Linked DNA regions of Homo sapiens: region 1 is linked to region 2. Evidence: fine-mapped expression QTL. A gene starts in region 2. The other region holds a variant in brackets. All regions are shown on one strand. Distances are from middle to middle. Region 1 overlaps KDM8 (lysine demethylase 8). Region 2 holds the start of NSMCE1 (NSE1 component of SMC5/6 complex).

Region 1 (9,718 bases), 44 kb after region 2:
CTTCCAGGTGGGTATATCACCCCAAGGACACGTCACTCCTGGACAGCCAGTCCTGTGTGAGACTGGCCCGGCATGGAGGTGCTGAGGCAGCTGTCCGTCCAGGAGAAGGCCCAGGGGTGGTAGGTGGTTGGGGTCAGCGGGGAGGCCTCTGAGAGCAAGCGCGGCTCATGGGAGCTGGGCGTCTGCTGATCGGCGCACCTCCATACACCCCAGGACTGCTCCCTACACGAGGTCCTGACTTCCAAGTGTTGTGGCGAGGCGCCTGGGAGATCACCTGGGCTGTCGTCGTCTTTGAGGGCTAGGGCATCCCTCCTGCCCCTCCCCTGATGGGCCCTCAGAGGACTGAGTGGGTCATGAATGGTGAGCCTTGGGTGCAGTTTCAGGCACATAGCAGGTGTTCAGTAAATGCAGCTTGGCTGGGTGCAGTGGCTCAAACCTGTAATTCCAGCATTTTGGGAGGCCAAGGCGGGTAGATCACTTGAAGTCAGGAGTTTGAGACCAGCCTGGCCGATATGGTGAAACCCTGTCTCTACTAAAAATATAAAAAAGTTAGCTGGGTGTGGTGGCGGGCATCTGTAATCCCAGGTACTCGGGAAGCTGAGGCAGAAGAATCGCTTGAACCCTGGAAGCAGAGGTTGCAGTGAGCTGAGATCGTGCCATTGCATGATCTAGCCTGGGCAACAAGAGCGAAACTCTGTCTCAAATAAATAAATAAAAAATAAATGCAGCTCCTGCCTCAGTCTGAGCTTGAACTTGCTTAGTGTCAGGCATTCCTTTGGGATCAGTGCAAGGTCTACTTCATCTTCCCGTGGGTGTTTATCACAGGCCTGCCAAGTGCTGGGCCCCACAGCAGGTGCTGCGGACACAGGAGTGAGCACAGCCAGAGCTGGTGGCCGCTCCCATGGGGCCATGGTCTGGAGGGGGAGCCCGAGATCAGTGAGACGGTCATCTCACTGCAGTCCTGGTACAGATGGAAAGGAAACATGGCTTTATGACAGCTGTCCCAGAGGAACCGGCCCTCAGCTGCTGAGGAAGTGACACTTGAGCTGAAGGCTGTGTGGGAGTTGCCTGGAGCCTGGGGTGGGAGGATCATCAGCCCGGCAGTGGCCCTGTGGCCAGCAGGTGCACTCAAGAAGCTAAGGCCAGGGCCATCTGAGCACAAAGATTGCGAGGCGAGCAGACGGAGGGCAGCCCGGGAGATACGCGTATTAGGGGCTTGGCTCTTGGACCTAAGGGTGGTGGGAAGCCCTGGGGTGGGGGTGAGTTGGGAGTGACAGGGCCAGGCTTGTTCGGTAGCGAGTGCGTTGCTGGAGGAGAGTGGGCTCAGAGAGCAGCAGGAGCAGGGGAGGGTGGAAGAGGGTGGAGGCCGGGGAGGTGGGTTGCCATGATGGATCTGTAGGGGAGGGTGGAAGAGGGCGGTGGCCGGGGATGTGGGGTACCATGATGCATCTGGAGGGGAGGGCGGAAGAGGGCGGTGGTTGGGGGTGTGGGGTGCCATGATGGATCTGGAGGGGAGGGTGGAAGAGGGTGAGGGCTGGAGAGGTGGAGTACCATGATGGATCTGGAGGGGAGGGTGGAAGAGGGTGGTGGCTGGGGATGTGGGGTGCTGTGATGGATCTGGAGGGGAGGGTGGAAGAGGGTGGGGGCTGGAGAGGTGGGGTACCATGATGGATCTGGAGGGGAGGGTGGAAGAGGGTGGTGGCTGGGGATGTGGGGTGCTGTGATGGATCTGGAGGGGAGGGTGGAAGAGGGTGGGGGCCAAGGAGGTGGGGTGCCGTGATGGATCTGGAGGGGAGGCTGGAAGAGGGCGGTGGCCAGGGAGGTGGGGTGCCATGATGGATTTGGGAGCTTTGGGGGAAGGTAACAGCCATAGGACTGAGGACCGAGGACAGCCTGGGGGCTGGTCACATCCTCCCATTGCCCACAGCACTTGGATGACACAAAGCCCCTGTGCACCAGCAACAGCTGCGGTGCAGGGCACAAGCACCTGGTGCCCCGGCCTCCCTCCACTGTTCCCGCAGCGGCTGTCCATGCCCCAACCCCACGCTTCTGCCCTGCCTTCCTTCCTGTGCTCACCCAGCTCCTCTACTGGTGTTCCAGAGCGAACGCACTGTGAGCCCAGATTACGCAAGCACACCCCTCCACATTGCACTGTGGGGATGAAGGTGGGAATGGGGTGGGGGGCTCTACCTGTCAGAAACGGGAGTGGGCTGGGTGCGGTGACTCACGCCTGCAATCCCAGCACTTTGGAAGGCCGAGGTGGGCGGATCACCTGAGGTCGGGAGTTCAAGACCAGCCTGGCTAACATGGTGAAACCCTGTCTCTACTAAAAATACAAAATTAGCCAGGCGTGGTGGCGCATGCCTGTAATCCCAGCTACTCAGGAGGCTGAGGCAGGAGAATTGCTTGAACCCGGGATGCGGAAGTTGCATTGAGCCAAGATTGTGCCATTGCATTCCACCCTGGGCAACAAGAGCAAAACTCCATCTCAAAAAAAAAAAAAAAAAAAGAAAAGAAAAGAAACGGGAGTGACAGCTCTTGCTTGTAAAAATTAAAAATTAGAAAATAACAGAAAAGGCAGTTGAGCACTCGGGTGACTTGCAGGCGTCAGTGACGTCATCTCCTGGTGTGGTTCATATCCGATGCATGAGCTGACTGTGGAGAAACTGGAATCAGCCTGCATGGGTCCATGTCCTGGGTCCCGTGTCATTTGCCTGCCTTGGGTCTCCCTCAGTGCTGCCTTTCTCCTGTGACCTGGCAGTAGGGTCGGCCTGGGGAGCTGCATTGTTCTTGTGCTTCCGGGCTCTCCCAGGGATTTCAGGATGCATGATGGGTGGACCGCACCCTGGCATGGGAACCAGGAGGCCTGGCTTCCACTGGAGGCTCCACTGCCCACAGTGTGATGGGGCCTGTCTGCCCTCTCCAGACTCCTTCCAGCTCCATCTGTAAAGTGATGTGGCTGGAAGTGATCTCTGAGGGTCCCTACTGCAGTTGGAGGCAGAAGTGCTGGGAGGCAGAAGTGCTGGGAGGCACCAGGGATGCTGCTTTTTGGGAGTGGGATGGGTGGCGGATGGCAGCAGTGGGTGTTTGGGTTTGCACCCTGGGGAGACTGACCCCCTTGTGGGCCTCAGCGTCCTCATCTGCAGGAGGGCTGTGACTGCCTCCCTCGAGGCTGCCGTGCAGACAGAGAAGTCACGTCTGAAGGCACAGCAGATGCTGAGAAAAGGCGGGTGTCAGGGAGCCACGCCTCCATGTCTTTAGGGTCTTTGCCTCAGTTTCCCTTGCCGAGGCTCTGCCAGGGGGATGTGGCTGATGCCCGTTGGCTGGGGTTGGTGAAAAGCTGCGTAGACCCTTGTGTCTTCCTGAGCACTGGGCTGTGGGATCACAGAGGGAAGAGAGGTGGTGAATGGGGAGAGGGCCTGGCTGAGGGTGGCCACCTCCTGTGTGTCCCTGCAGAAGGAAGGGGAGTTCACCCTGCACGGCCGGGCCATCCTGGAGATGGAGCAATACATCCGGGAGACGTACCCCGACGCGGTGAAGATCTGCAATATCTGTCACAGCCTCCTCATCCAGGTACCCGCAGGGCAGGGCACGGGAGCTCATCACTGGGCCCTCGGCTCCCGGGGCTCTGTACAGGTACTTCCCGGAATCCTGGCTCTGGGCCCAGCCCTCCTGCACTGCTGGCGCATCCTCCCACAAGAGCTGGCGGAGGCCATCTCCCAGGACGTGTCAGGACGCCTCCCTGCTGTGCCCCGCAGGGACGCACTGCCGCCCTCCTCCCTGGTTCTGCTGTTGGGGTCCAAGGGCCCTCGCTTACTTTATTTTTCTCAGGAAGGCTGAGTGTTCTGTGCAACCTGCATCATCTTGGTAGTTTTGTAGTGAGTGTCTCTTGTCGATTGCTGCTTTCTGGAGTGGTCTTAACACTGGTTTGCAGGGCTTTGCAACCGCTGAACCAGCGTGGACATTGATGTGTCTTTCAGTTTCTATCGTTTTGCAGCTGTAGCTGTTTGTAATTGCAATTGCTCTTACGGGCCTCGTACACCTGTATCCTTGGGCACCTGGTGATTATTTCCTTGGGCGGAGTTTCTGGGACAAAGTGCACTTTTTTTTTGAAAGCTTTTGATTCACATTAGCAAATAAGCTTCTGAAAAGCTGTGGCTGTCCACACGCCACCTGCAGGATCTGAGTGCAGGAGTTTGGGAGCCCTCGGCTTCTGTCACTGCGTTCATGTGTTCAGAATTGTTTAGTAAAACCCACCGCAACAAGCAGCAAGCAAACAAAAGACTCCACTGCACTAAGGCGTTTGGGATTATTTTCAATATTAATCTGGGGCCCAGAAGATAACACGATGCCACCTGCTGCCCATTTCCCTTGTGGCTTCCCCGGAGGTTTGCAGAACATGGAGGTGTGCACCAGCTCCGCCGTCATTGGCCTTTCCTGTTTCAGGGTCAAAGCTGCGAAACCTGTGGGATCAGGATGCACTTACCCTGCGTGGCCAAGTACTTCCAGTCGAATGCTGAACCGCGCTGCCCCCACTGCAACGACTACTGGCCCCACGAGATCCCAAGTGCGTGGGCCCTGAGGAGCTCATGGGAGGGGCTGGGCCAGCAGGACGTGGGGCCTGGTGCCAGGGAAGCCCTTGGAGACAGGGCCCTGAAGGGCTCCAGGGTGTGTGGGGGTCCGTGTTAGCAGCTTGAATCCTAGAAGAAGCCACTGCAGGAAGTAAAGGCTGAGCTACGTGCACCGCTCCAGAGGACTTTCTAGAACCCAGCTGAAATTCCAACGTGTATGAGCATTTTGTCTAGACAAGGCTCTCTCTCTGGCAGCCCTCTCAGGAGGGGGACGTGAAAGCTATGTCCACAGCTCCCTCAGTTTGTTCCTCTCTGAACTGGGGCTAACTCTGCCTTCCTCACGGGCTGGGGAGGGTTAGCAGTGAAGGATGGTGTAGACCTAGGACAGTCCTTGGCACAGGAGACGTAGCTGCTGGCTCCAGCTGGTGCCCCTGTGCTGCCAGCCCCTCCATTCACTGTGTCTTTCCTGCCTTTTCTGTCTACAGAAGTCTTCGACCCTGAGAAGGAGAGGGAGTCTGGTGTCTTGAAATCGAACAAAAAGTCCCTGCGGTCCAGGCAGCATTAGCCATCGTGCCCTGCTGAGGGGCTGGCTGCCTTGAGTGGCCTGATCGCCACAGCCCTTCTTGGAAGAAAGGCGTCCGTGTTTCAGGTTCCACGCGAGTCACCTCTTTCGTCTTAATGTTCACCGTCCACAGCTTTGGAATAAACCATCCTGGGAAGTTGCTGCAGCCCGTCTGTGTTCTCGAGCCCGTGTGTGAGGCTCCGTGTTGGGGCCTTGCCTTTCCTGGAGTTCGGTCGTCACTCAGACCCCCTGGGTTTGGGCTCCAGCAGGTGAAGCCAGCAAGAGCCCCCAGCAATGACTCAGAACAGCTCACTGTCCTTGCCCAGGGCAGCCTTGCCTCCAGTCCCAGCGGTGGCCAGCTGTCCCAGCAGGACTGGGCTGGCCC[G/A]AACCTGGATGTGTGAGCCTTGGCCTCCCCAGCTCCCCAGTCTGGACTCTCCCCTGGCCCAAGGTGCCACTGGCCTGAATGGGCTGAGGCTGGGCGTTTGGGCGGGATGCGTGCTCTCCCTCCCTGGACGCTCTGCTCCCTGTGGGTGCCCGGCAGCCCTGCCATCCAGCTGTCCCAGCCGGGACTGGGAGTCAGCCTCAGTGCTTCCTCTCCCTGACCCTCCTGCATCCCATTGTCACCAGATCCTGTCCAGCCCAGCTGCCAATAGCCCTCTAGCCCTGCCACTGCTGCCTCAGGCTGAGCTCCAGCCCCGGCCCACACTCTGCCTCTGTGCTCCCTGCAGAAGACCCCTGGATGCCCCCACTGCTGCAGCAGGGCTGTGACCCCTGGTGAGGCTCCTGCTCATCTGCCACCGCCTCCCCCCACCCACTGCTCAGGGTGCAGCGCTTCCTTCGTCAGCTCCGGAGCCTCTACACAGAGCGCCCTGGGCCTGCGCGCCCTCCCCTCTGGTGTCTGGCTTTGTTTCCTGGCTAGCACCCGCTCGCCCTTTGGCACTGGTCAGCCCCTCGCTCCCTGCACTTCCTCCATCCTCACACTTGTTAAGTCCCCATCTTCATCCCTCTCTTGAACCCCAGCATCAGTCAGGATGCTTCAGTCATGACAGAAAAGCCAACTCAGACTGGCTGAAACAAGGACGGACTTGGCCACAGGGGTCTTGAGGAGATGCCTGGTCTAGAGGCTCCAGCAAGGTCACCACACAGCCATATTTCTGTGTCTACTGTGCTTTCACTGGGCTGGCTGCATGCTTGGGGCCTACGAGGTGGTTTCCTAGAAATCCAGCTGCCTTCTTCATGGTAGCAAAATAGCTGCCATGCCTCTGGGCCTCGCGCATCATGCCTGGGATCAGGAGGAAGAGGGTGGCTCTCACTTAGTGGCTCCCACATCCTTGCAAGCATCCTCATGGCCCACAGCTCCCACGTGGACACCTGTGAGGTGGGGATGGGATTATCCAGCTGGCATTGGAAAATTAGACCCACCTCGGAGAGAGGGGTGGGACTGTCCCTCTCAGGCCACGTGGCTGAGGGAGCAGGGGCCTTTCCCTAAGCATATCGAAGGTGCGATCACATCTTCAGTAGCCTCAGGGGCAGCAGGGAGTGAACTTGGACACTGAATTGGTGGCTGGCCTCCCCCGCTGCAGGCAGGACCACCCCACTTTGTTCACCTCCATAAACCCAGGGTGGAGCAGGCATCCAAGGCTCAGTGAACCAATGACCCCTGCTGGTGGGAGGCTCACCCTCCCAGAACCAGGTCTGGGCTCCTCAGCCCTCAAGCCCACCTTCCCATAGTGAGGCAGCCGGGGACCCAGCCCAGCCCTTCGTCAGTGGGCAGAGACACGCCCATTGGTAAGCCCAGTACGTTCAGCCACTGCCAGCCCCGGCCGGCCTCACCTAAAGAGGGGTTTTTTGGAAACGTATGAGGTGGCTTGCAGAAATGACAGGAAGGCAGGACCAGTCTAGAATGGGAGACCTTGGAATAAGGGTCATGGATGTCAAGACAATTCTGTCACTGCGGGCGCTGCTGCCACAGGGGGTCGGCTCCAGCCTGTCTGAGCTCCTCCCGACACGCCCTCAAGATGCCGGTCCAGGGAGGAGCTGATGTACAGACCTTCCAGGACCGCATCCCTGGGGCAGAGGTCATTCTCCAGAATGCAGTCAGCTTGCCGTTCTGGAAGACGGGAAGATGGACGCCAGAAGGCAAAAAGCCAACTAGCAAATAATGCCTGCAGGAGGGGCCGGGGCAGCTCCGGACTGTCCCAGTTGTCCTGTGGTTCTGGCTGTTCATTCTTTGAGCTCGAGTCAGTCCTGGCTGGGGACTCAGGAAGCCTCTGGGCACTTGGCCACTGGGGACACCAGCCCTCCTGCTGCTTGTCTCTCTTGCCTCCAACCCCTGCATGATAACACCGACATGAACGTCCCACAACGCACACTAGCACTCACTCAAAACCCTCATGAGGAGTTCCAGATGCTGCGTGTCCTCACCCACAGGGCAGGACATTTCCCCTTTTCCCATTCCTCATCTGACAAGGGACATCTGCTTGAAGCCACCTGGCCAGGATACCACACGTTAATGAACGTGGCCTCCCGTGCCCAGCTTTCTGTCACGCTACACTACAGATGGGCCGTGGGGCTTGCCAGCTGGAGCGGCTAGGCACTGGGAGCTGGGGCCACAGTCCACCTGTCCTTCAGCTGGGGAAGGGGTTTGAGTTACACAGGCGGGCCAGGAGTCACAGCCCACTGTGGCCGGGCCGCCACCCCTCCTCACTAATGGCGAACCTAGTCATGAGGGCGTCCCTGTTTTATGCCTCGCTACTTTCAGGGGTGTTGACATCTGGTGTAAATTCTTCCTGTGAAAGATTAGGTAATTCACTATTAACCATGGCAGGGAATAAACAATGTCCTTGCAAACAGCTGCCCACGGAGCCAAGTGGACTCAGCTTCCAGATAGCTCTTGTGTTTGTCACTCCCCAGCACGCCCATGGCCCCTCGGCAGCCCACTCCCAGGATGAGTATCACGGCCTCTCCCTGCCAACAGCCAGCTTTCGAGAATGCAGATTCTGCTGTGTCTGCTCAAAGGCTGAGAACCCCAGGACCTACACGATAAAGTCAAATTCCTTGGCCTGGGTAGAGGGCATCAGGAGCTGGAGTTCAGCTGCCCACAGCCACTTTCCCATCCCCCTTCTAGTTACCCCAGGGTAGCTACCTCCTGGCCAACCAGAATCTTTCCTGGGGCTGCTTGATTTTTGGCTAAAAGACAAGCAGCTGAGCCAGTGGCAGGATGCTGGCAGGATGGCAGCTCAACCCTCAGGGCTCTTTTCCCCAGGCCTATCTTAGAAGCGGGGAAGAAAGAAGCCAAGGCTGGCATGTGGCTCACACCTGTAACCCCAGCACTTTGGGAGGCCAAGGTGGGAGGATTGCTTAAGCCCAGAAGTTCAAGACCAGCCTGGGCAACATAGCAAGATCCCATCTCTATTTAGTTTAAAAAACAAAAAACAGAGGGCTGGGGAAAATCTTAATGGCCAAAACATAAAACAAACCTGCGTGCACACAAACGAGACACAATTACAGAAAGCATAGAGCCTGGCTCTCCCCCTGGCCTCAAATCCCCCAGGTTTGAGAGTCATTACTTCTGGGGGATGGTGACTAGAAGGTGGTAGGAGGGAGGCTTCTAGGAGCTGGTGATGGTTCGGTGGTTTCTTCACTTGGGAGCCTGCTCCTGGGTGAGTGCGGGTGAAAAGTCATCCAGCAAGACCTTCGCACTTCTCTGCAGGCAGGTAGGTTATCCTTGAGCCATGGGGATGACAGAAAGCTCCCACTGCTCAGCAGGGGTCCCGGCTCCTGCGCAGGTCTCTACGGACTCTCTCCTGTGACCTGGGCAATGCCCAGCTCTCTCCAGTATTCAGGCTGTGGCGTCCAGCAGGCCGTTATGGGAAGGAAGGGCAAAAGGATCAGAGTAATTGGGATCAGTGACAGCGGCTAAGGTTCATGCAGCAGCAGGGGCTCGGCACCGCCTTCTCGGCCCTCGGCAGTGAGGACTGGCCTTGCCCTCTTTTCCATATGGGCACAGCGAAGTGGGGGATCCTGGCCAAGTCACCCAGCAGGTGCACAGCGCGGCCGGGTTTGAATCAGGTAGCCAACCTCAGAGCCCATGTTTCACCCCTGCCTGTGTGACCCACCCGTTTCCCAAAAACATTCGGCTTTCTGATGCCAGAGTCCCCATGCAGGCTGTCTGTCTGCAATGTCCTTCTGGGCTCTCCCCACCTTCCTCTGCCATGCACCCCTGGCCTGGAGTGTGCTCCTTCCTGGGCAGCCCCTGCTCTGTGCCTGTCCAGTGCTGGAGCTCAGCCCCCCAGGGCTGCCACTGGGCAGTGAAGGCTCTTCAGGACACAGGTTCAGTCCTGCTTGTCTCTATAGATTCCAGGACCCAGGAAATTAGTGAACAGATGAATGCTGTCTGCATGTCAGGCCCTTTCAGCTCCTATCCTGGCTACGACCACCAGAAGCTGACCGAGAAGCTCAAATCCAGAGCCCGCACGTAATGCCAGTATTTCACCGGGATGAACAGGATCTCTCCAGGAGACAGGATGCAGGACAGGAATGGGGCCTTGGCAAACTTGGGGAACTTTTCCAGGTCGGGATTCTC
Region 2 (9,718 bases):
ATTCGTAAGTAATAGATGTACGTGGTTAAAAAAAAAAGTTCATTCTGACTTCCTGGCCCCTTCCTCAGAAGCAGCTGCAGTTACTAATTTAAGGTGTATTGTATCTACACCTTTTTGGCTCTCTTTTTGTTGTTGATGTTTAATTTTACCACATTGCGGTTTGTGAATGTGGTCTATAGATTCTTTGGAATTCATTTAAGCTTCCTTTGTGGCCCAGTACATAGTCAATTTCTGTAAAGAATAGATATACCAAAGTTTTTTTTTCTAAAATACAAGCCTGATCTCATCACTTACTTTTCATAAGCTTCTGTGGTCTTCGGGTGAAAGACCAACACCCTCAGCATATTATTTCCCGAAGCTTCCTCTCTAGCCAAGGCCTTGGCCCTCGCCTTGTGGTCAACAAATTTATGTACTCATAGCTCTCATGCATTTTAGGGTCAGCTTTGAGAAGTCTGAACCATCAGAGCTGTCCAGGAATAGAGAGTCCAAAGTCTGGCACTTCAAAGGCCCAATAAATACTCACAGAGCCCACTAGGGAATGAGCCGTCCTCTGAGTCATACTGAGGCAGGACTGTCACCCCATGGGGGACCACTCTGCATGATGAACTTCGATCCTTACTCACTACTTGTTCCTGCTGAACGAGATTCACCTCATAGAGGCCTCTGATTGCTGTACTGCTTCCATTTTAATTTGTCAGCACTTTCCCTTCTTTTTATTTTTGCCAGATCCATAGTGGATCACTTGACAGTAGCATTCTCCCGTCACTTGGCCTTCTATGAATCAGTTGCTTAACCCCAGCTAAGGCCCACTTCAGTATGAATCCAGGCTGAGCTTCTGCTCTGAAGCCCCCAGGATGGGGATGGGGGTGTTGAGGGAGGGATCAGATAACCAACTGTCATCTCTACACATTTCTGGTTTCAACCTCAGCTAGGAACTCATCTCTGCATTGTCGTCAGCGTCTCTTCCAAACCTTTTGATCCATTCCCCTTAAATCCCTTAGCATCTCCTCAGCACCTCCCAACCTTTTTTTGGGATAGGCTGGTGTGCAGTGGCACCATCCCTCAACCTTAACCTCAACTGTAGCCTCAACCTCCTGGGCTCTACCTCCCAGGCTCAAGCCATCCTCCCACCTCAACCTCTCAAGTAGCTGGGACTACAGACACATGCCACCACACTCGGCTAATTTTTAATTTTTTTTTTGTAGAGACGAGGTCTTGCTGTGTTGCCCAGGCTGGTCTCGAACTCCTGATCTCAAGCAATCCTCCCACCTCAGCCTCCCAAAGTGCTGGGATTACAAGTGTGAGCCACCACGCCAGGCCCTCTTCAGCCAAAGATTGATACTGTTTGCTACCTTACGGAGAAAACGGAAAACATCAGGAGTGAGCTTTTTTTAGCCACTTTCACCTCTTTTCCTGCTGTTTCAGAAGTGTCTCTTCTCTTCTCTAGGTTAACAGTAATCCTGTCGCTATACACCTTTGACCCCATCCCTTTTTGTCTGTTTTTTTTTTGGTGTTTTTTTTTTTTTTTTTAAGACAGAGTCTTGCTCTGTTGCCCAGGCTGGGGTGCACTGGCACAGTCTCGGCTCACTGCAACCTCCACCTCCTGGGTTCAAGACATTCTCCTGCCTCAGCGTCCAGAGTAGCTGGGACTACAGGTGTGCGCCACTACGCCCGGCTAATTTTTTGTATTTTTAGTAGAGATGGGGTCTCACTATGTTGGCCAGGCTAGTCTCAAATTCTTTTTTTTTTTTTTTTTGAGATGGAATCTCACTCTGTCACCCAGGCTGGAGTACAGTGGCTCGATCTCAGCTCACAGCAACCTCTGCCTCCTGGGTTTAAGTGATTCTTCTGCCTCAGCCTCCCAAGTAGCTGGGCCTACAGGCACGCACCACCATGCCCAGCTAATTTTTGTATTTTTAGTAGAGACAGGGTGTTACCATATTGGCCAGGCTGGTCTCGAACTCCTGACCTCATGATCCACCCGCCTCGGCCTGCCAAAGTGCTGGGATTACAGACGTGAGCCACCGCACCCGGCTGCCTGTTTTTATTTTATGGATTATTATCTCTGCTCCTATGTCTTCAAGTCTTCCCTTCTGAAGCCATACTTCCCAAAAGAGCAGTCAGCATTCCCTCTCCACTTCCTCAACTTCCACTCTTCACTCTTGGAGTTCGATCTGGCTTCCTCCCCTCTCTATTAAGATGGCCTTTGTTGGCCATCAAATTCTAAATCAGTGGCGCATCTTACTCGACCTCTCCAGAGCATTGACGATTCTGACCACACCCTCCTTCTCAAAAGTCTGTATTCCTATGTGCCTCTGATGCCACTTTCACAGCATGTGGTTCATGAATGTCACCTATAGATTCTTGAGAATTTCTTGAAGCTTCCTTTGTGGCCCAGTAATCAATTTCTGTAAATGTTCCAAGCATGTTTGAAAAGAATAGATATACCCAAGTTCTTTTTCTAAAATACAAACCTTCTCTCATTTCTTCCTGGTCTTCCATCACTTCTATGGTCTTCAAGTGAAAGACCAACCCCCTCAGTCTTGAATCTTTCTTTTCTTTCTACCTTTTTTTCTTGACGCTTTGATCTTGAAATGCTGGTGTTCCCAGCGTTTTCTATTCTTTTATCTCTCCACACACCAGGGAAGCACATGCTTCACAAAAGGGGACGGTCTCTCCCAAGTTCTGAACAAGTGCTGCCATGGGGGAAGGCTGGCCCACTGTCGTCAGACTTCCCCACTTTTCCAGAGCAGTCAGCTACAGTAGGGTTTTATGTGAAATGTCCCAAGTTTATTTATTTATTTTTGAGACAGAGTCTGGCTCTGTCACACAGGCTGGAGTGCAGTGATGCAATCTCAGCTCACTGCAACCTCTTCCTCCTTGGCTCAAGCTGTCCTCCCACCTCAGCCTCTTGAGTAGCTGGGACCACAGGTGTTCACCACCATGCCTGGCTAATTTTTGCGTGTGTGTGTGTGTGTGTGTGTGTGTGCGCGCGCGCGTATATATTTTTTTTGTAGAGATGGGGGCCTCACCATGTTGGCCATGGCTGATCTCAAACTTCTGAGCTCAAGCCATCCTCCCAGCTGGGCCTCCCAAAGTGTTGGAATTACAGGAATGAGCCATCATGCCCAGTCAAAGATTGAAAACCCCAACTTTAAATATTGATAATGAATAGAAAATTTCACAAAACCATGTAGGGCAAACAAAACACAAATATTACTCCTTAGGGCTTTATTTCCCCTCTTATTTGACTACCTATTAGGCAGTTTATAAAGAACTTATTAGTGGTGTTAGTTCACACTTATTGAGGGCTTACAATGTGCCAGAGACACTCTTCTAAGTAGTTTACGTTTACTCTTCCTTTAATCTTCAGAATAACATTATCAACAAAGTGTTATTATTAAACCTGCTTTATAGATGAGCAAACTGAAGCTGAAAACTTGAGCTCAGTCATCCCTTAGTATCTGTGAGGGATTGGTACCTTAGTCCCCATGGATACCAAAATTCTCGATGCTCAAGTCCCTTATGTAAAATCAAAACCACCTTTGTAAAAAGCATAACTGAGAAAATTATGATAGTGAAAGAGATCTGGCCTGACTCCATCTTGCTTCTAACTTCCAAGCTGTCCTTGATCATTCCTGGACATAGGTGGAATTAATGTTGGAAAGAACTTAGTTTATAGTTTAACTTTGAAACAAAGGCAATAATAGCCCTTTCCCAAAACAAATCCCCTCCTTGCCTAGGAACGGGTCTGCCTTTGTAGACTAACAAATTAGCTAAAAGATTAGAAATTATGGTTTAGGAGGTCACGCAAGCTGGAGGCTACAAGATTCTGACCCTCCCCAGATTGCTTCCGGGAGTAACATCACTGTTCTAAAACCTAAAATCAGTGCTTGAGATATTTTGCAGAACCCGTGTTCTAATGCACCAGCTGACGCCACCCAGCCCTGTAATCTGGCTAATCTGGTCCTATGGTCCTAACCCAGGATCTGACTCAGTGCAAGAGGACAGCTTTGACTCCTTTCCTCTCTGATCCAACCTATCAACACTCTCTAATCCCCAGCACCTCCAGCCACCAAATTATCCTTGAAAACCCTGAATTTCCAGGGAGACTGATTTGAGTAATAATAAAACTGTGGTCTCCTGTTCAGCCAGCTCTGTGTGAATTAAACTTTCTCTATTGCAATTCCCCTGTCTTGATAAATTGGTTCTGTCTAGGAAGCAGGCAAGGAGAACCATTGGGTGCTTACAAAATGCGAGAATACTTGCATTTAACCTACACAAATCCTCCAGTATATTGAAAATCATCTTTAAATTACTTACAATACTTAATACAATGTAAATGCTATATAAGTAATTGCTATGCTGTATTGCTTTCGGAATCTGTATTATTTTTATTGTTGAACTGTTATTTTTTACTGTTTTCCCCCACAAATATTAACCACCCACAGTTGCTTCAATCCGTAGATGGGGAACCTGTAAACATGGACAGCTGACTGTACTTTGTCCTATGTCTCAGAGACACTGAGTTTAAGGCCCAGGATTCCATGTTGACCATCCAGCTCCAAAGCTGAAGCTTTTAATCACCACACACCACTGCTTTCCCACTTAGCAGATGAAACTGAAGCCCAGAGAGGTTAAGAGGTTGTCCAAGATCACAGGGGTGGTGAGTGACCAAGCCTGGATTTGATCTATCCTCACAGAGACAGATATTTGCAGGTACTGCTGTTCTATATTAGTTACCTGTTTCCCTTGCTAGGCTGCATCCCTAGCTCTCAGACCAGGGATAGAATTCAAACGTTTGGAAAATTAACGCCTTGAAGACTCAAAGCAGTCCATTCACTTCCACGAGTAATTTCACTTGCTTTCTCACAATCCCTAGGTAAGATAACAGTTAACATATAATCAGCACTCCCATGTGACACTTTTCAATGGCCATGCTAAGCACCTGATATAGGTGTTATTATCTCTTGTAAATCTCACCAACACTATTTTGCAAGAACTAATATCCTCATTTAATGGAAGAGGAAACTGAGGCTCAGTGACTTGCCCAAGCGCCTGCCAACTAGTAAGTGGCAGAGCCAGGATTCTAGATCAGGCTCTATGACCACAGAGTCCACATTTTTCTTTTCTTTTTTTTTGAGCTCTGTCACCCAGGCTCGAGTGCTGTGGTACGATCTGGCTCACTGCAACCTCTGCCTCTCGGGTTCAAGTGATTCTCCTGCCTCAGCCTCCCGGGTAGCTGGGATTACAGGCACACACCACCACGCCCGGCTACTTTTTGTATTTTTAGTAGGGACGGGGGTTTCACCATGTTGGCCAAGCTGGTCTCGAACTCCTGACCTCAAGTGATCGGCCCGCCTTGGTCTCCCAAAGTGCTGGGATTACTTACAGGCGTGAGCCACCGCGACCGGACCAGAGTCCACATTTTTGACGTCGAGGCCACACTCAGTTCCACAGATGGGGAAACTGAGGCCCGGGGCAGGGCACTACATTGTGCCAGCGGAATGGTGGCCATTGAGGGAAGCCCAGGCTGCACGCCAATTCTTCCTCCTTGGTCAGGGAAGTCACTGAGGTGCAGGAGGCGGAGGGCGACAAGTGGAAGCCCCTTCCCATTATTAAGGATCGAGAGCGGGCGTAATTTGGGATCTAACCCACGAGGCGGAACCACCAGGGCAATGGCGCAAACGGAGAACCGGAAGTGCGTCACTCAACGGACGGGCGAATAAGCCGCAGGCCACCAATGGGAACGCCGCGTTCGCGTTCGCCCCGCCTCAAAGGAAGAAGAGTCCACCTTGCGACCGTATCCGCTAGCGCGGCCTGGGATGCGCTTGGGCTCCCTGGTGGGTAACGTGGGGAGCTAGGGGTTGGAGGGGAAAGAAGAGGGACTTCAAGGAAGGCGAGGGGAGGACGGAAGGTGGGGTGGGCGAGACAGGCAGTGGGGTCCGGCCCCGGGGTCGGTCCCCGTGGGCTGTGGAACTCGGGGACTGGGGTCTTGGGGTTTCCCCCTTCTTGATGGGGAAACTGAGGCCCAGACAGGGGCCGCAGAAAACAGCGGACTGGGATGTCCTCCCGCAACACACACGCAGACATCTAAAAATCTTACTATTTAGTGAAAAATATTTTTAATCGTAATTACGATTTAACAGGTAAAGATACTTTTCATTGTAACAGGTGAAAAAGCAAAATATAAAATTCGATTCAAACTGTGATTACATCTATGGAAAATACAGCCTTTGCCGACCACCCTCTTTGTCCCGCCGCCCTCCGTGCTCCCCTCTGTTTTGTGTACGGAGTTTCTTACTTTGTACAAGTCCGCAGCCGCTTATGTTACAGCCCCGAGGCCAGATGCGTTTAAAATCGAGGAGTTCTCGGAGTTTGGAAAGGTAAAGTCCCTATGTTCTATGTTAGGTTTCACCCTCAGAGGGGGCTGGAGCAGCGGCTTGTAATCAAATACACGACCCTTTCCACAGCTAAAGTTATGAAGATACGCATATATTACATTGACCTGGTCGCGGTGGCCCACGGCTATAATTCCAGCACTTTGGGAAGCTGAGGGGGGCGGATCACCTGAGGTTCGGAGTTCGAAACCAGCCTGGCTAATATGGTGAAACCCTGTCTCTACTAAAAATACAAAAAATTAGCCGGGCGTGGTGGTGCGTGCCTGTAATCCCAGCTACTCGGGAGGCTGAGACGGAAGGCTGAGGCAGGAGAATCGCTTGAACCCGGGAGGCGGAGGTTGCAGTGAATCAAGATCGTGCCACTTCACTCCAGCTTGGGCAACAAGAGCGAAACTCCGTCTCAAAAAAAAAAATGCATATATTTACACTGTTGGGATAAATAACCATAAATAGCCTCACCTTAAGTCAGGTCAAGTTTTCCAACTTAAACAAGTTTTGGTATTCAGACTTTTTTTTTTTTTTCCCCTGCATCCGATCATCCACTAGTATTCATACCTTTTTAGATTTGAGGGTTGCAGATGAGGGACCTGGATTGTAGTTGTTCTGTTCACTCACTTTTCTCACTCTCGCTGGATAGAGAGTGTCCTTGAAAACAGGAACTGTGCTGTTGTATGGTCACGTCTATCTCTGCCACCAACTCTTGTGTGTCACCTTGTGCCCTCTTAGTCTCAGTTTCCTCATCTGTAAGATGGGGTCAGTGACCCTTTGCTCATAAGGTTGTTCTGGTTTGGGTTAAATGAGGTCGGGCATGTGAAGCACTAGAATTGTGTTAGCACCCGCACGAATGGTATGACTGAGATTTACTTATTCCACAAACATTTCTATTTTAAAATTATTAAATTTAAATAAATTGATTTAATTAATGCATTTAATTAATTTAATAATAAATTTAAACGTATAGATGTATTTCTTAAAATGTGGGTGATAGGAATTTTAAAGATTTATATAATGCTTCAAAAGCCTTCGAAAAGGTTTTTTTAATTGGTTTATCTGTATATATGAACTCTTGAAACTTATGGCTAAAACACTAGGATTTATCTGCAAGGTTGCAGAGAGATAATTCTGCCTTAAATTGGCTAAAACAAAAACAAAACCAGCCAACCTATATTATACATGGGATTAAAACCAATTTTTCTCCCATTTTTTTTCTCCTTTTTTCTTTTGCTGCCCACATTATGCCTTATTTTATGAGCCCCAGTTTTCTGGGCTTAGTTAAAAAAAATTCAGTTCTAAACATTGAATTTAGGGAGTTTTTGTTCTTGAATAAAAAGGCATATACTTAGAAAAAAAATCTGTTTATCCGGGAAAATATATTGAAATCATGCTGCTGAGCCTCTATTTTCTTTGATGTTTTGGTTCTGTATTATTTTATCATAACTTTTTAGCATTTAAAAATTTACTGATGTACATTTAAAGCCAATAAACTGTTTTAATTAATTTTTTTAAAAAAAGTAATTTTTTTTTTCTTTTTGTGACAGAGTCTCGCCCTGTCGCCCAGGCTAGAGTGCAGTGACGCGATCTTGGCTCACTGCAACCTCCACCTCCTGGGTTCAAGCGATTCTCCTGCCTTAGCCTTCTGAGTAGCTGGGATTACAGGCGTGCACCACCACGCCTGGCTGATTTTTGTATAAAATAAAATTATTTAAGTAGGTAATACATGTCTATGCTAATCCCACCATTCTCCCTACAGTCTCTTCTCATAGAGACAAGGGACATAATATGCATAAACAAGCTTATGGTTGTCTTTCTTCCACTCCTACTTTTCCCACTCCTTTTCCACCAAATTATAGCATTCAATCCTATCCTGTTCTCATTCTCATTTACATTTATTTTGGCTGTTATTTAACATATTCACATTATTTTGTTGTTGTTGTTGTTGTTGAGAGTGGATCTTGCTATGTTGCCCAGGCTGGTCTTAAACTCCTGGCCTCAAGCAGTCCTCCCGCCTTGACCTCCCAAAGTATTGAGATTACAGGTGTGAATCACCATGCCCAGCCCATCACATTTAAAAACATTGTATGTAACATACCTATACAATTGTGTGGAAGTGTAAGTTTGAAGAACAAAAATAAAATGAACACTCATGTACCTGCCACCAAGTTAAGAAATAGACATTTTCAGATTGCCAGACCCTCCACTGAATCCTTTCTTCCCTCCTCAAAGATAACCACCGCCCTGAATATTGTGTTACTTGTTGCCTTGTTTTGCTTTGTAGTTTTTACCATGTATGTGTGTATTTCTAATGAATGAATGTATGCTTTTGCTGAGTTTTCGATTTTATGTAATAGGATCCTAAAATATATTTTGTGTGACTTGCTTGTTGCACTTAACATTATCTTTCTGAGAAGTATGCGTGTTGATGTGAGGAGCTCTACTTTGTCTTCATTGCTGATTTGAATTCTATGGGATGATTATATTGTTTTAATGTAGTTCTTCAGTTGGTAGGCATTTATACTGTTGCCAGACTTTTGTTATTACAAGGTGCTTCTGTAAAAACATATCTCCTAGGGCAAATGTGGAAGTTTCTGTAAGGTATATACCTAATAGTAGATTTCGGGGGATATGCAAATTTGCTAGTAATATCAACTGTTATCTGAAATGGTTACAATAATTTATACTCAGCCTGGAGTGGTGGCTCACACCTGTAATCCCAGCACTTTGGGAGGCTGAGGTGGGTGGATCGCTTGAGTCCAGGAGTATGAGACCAGCTGGGGCAACAGGTGAGACCCCATCTCTACAAAAAATACAGAAATTAGCCGGGCATAGTGGTGTGTGCCTGTAGTCATAGCTGCTAGGGGGTTCTGAGGTCAGAGGATCGATTGAGCCCACAAGGTCAAGGCTGCAGTGAGCTATGACTGTGTCACTTCATTCCAGCCTGGGCAACAGAGTGAGACCCTGTCTCAAAAAAAAAAAAAAAAAAAAAAAAGGAAAAGAATTTATACTCTCCCAGCAGCAGATGAAAGTTTCAGCCTCAGCCATTCTTTTAAAATTTTTGCCTGTCTGGTGGTGGCTAAGACATTCCTTCACTGTGGTTTTCATAATCATTTGTCTGATAACATTGAGATTGAGCATCTTTTTTCTGTATTTATTCATCATTTATGCATCCTCTTTTTGTAAAATTTCTGTTGCCCATTTCTCTTTTACAGTTGTGTTTCCCATGCTGATTTGTAGGAATTCCTTATATAGTCTGAATATGAATCTTTTGTATTTTGTAGCTTATGTTTGTTTTAAATGCCCTCCAGTTTGTATCCCCTAAC

Evidence for each region. PIP is the estimated chance that this variant, and not a neighbour inherited with it, causes the effect.
Region 1: its variant is fine-mapped to the expression of NSMCE1 in whole blood (INTERVAL, PIP above 0.99). The same link has a PIP of 0.9 or more in skeletal muscle.

Annotation. Positions count from the first base shown.
Region 1 is chr16:27,220,575-27,230,292 of GRCh38, reverse strand. KDM8 (lysine demethylase 8) reads right to left here. Exons shown (of 8, transcript NM_024773.3): 8 at 8,525-9,718. The coding sequence ends at 9,563. NSMCE1 (NSE1 component of SMC5/6 complex) reads left to right here. Exons shown (of 8, transcript NM_145080.4): 6 at 3,457-3,573; 7 at 4,447-4,567; 8 at 5,057-5,299. The coding sequence ends at 5,136. Among named protein-coding and RNA genes, the nearest start is that of KDM8, 22 kb to the right of the region's middle. RefSeq lists an enhancer at 7,213-7,898. The variant G/A (reference allele first, on the strand shown) is at 5,519.
Region 2 is chr16:27,264,831-27,274,548 of GRCh38, reverse strand. NSMCE1 (NSE1 component of SMC5/6 complex) reads left to right here and starts at 5,777. Exons shown (of 8, transcript NM_145080.4): 1 at 5,777-5,843. NSMCE1-DT (NSMCE1 divergent transcript) reads right to left here and starts at 6,344. Exons shown (of 5, transcript NR_037184.1): 1 at 6,305-6,344. RefSeq lists an enhancer at 2,347-2,895 and a silencer at 5,804-5,883.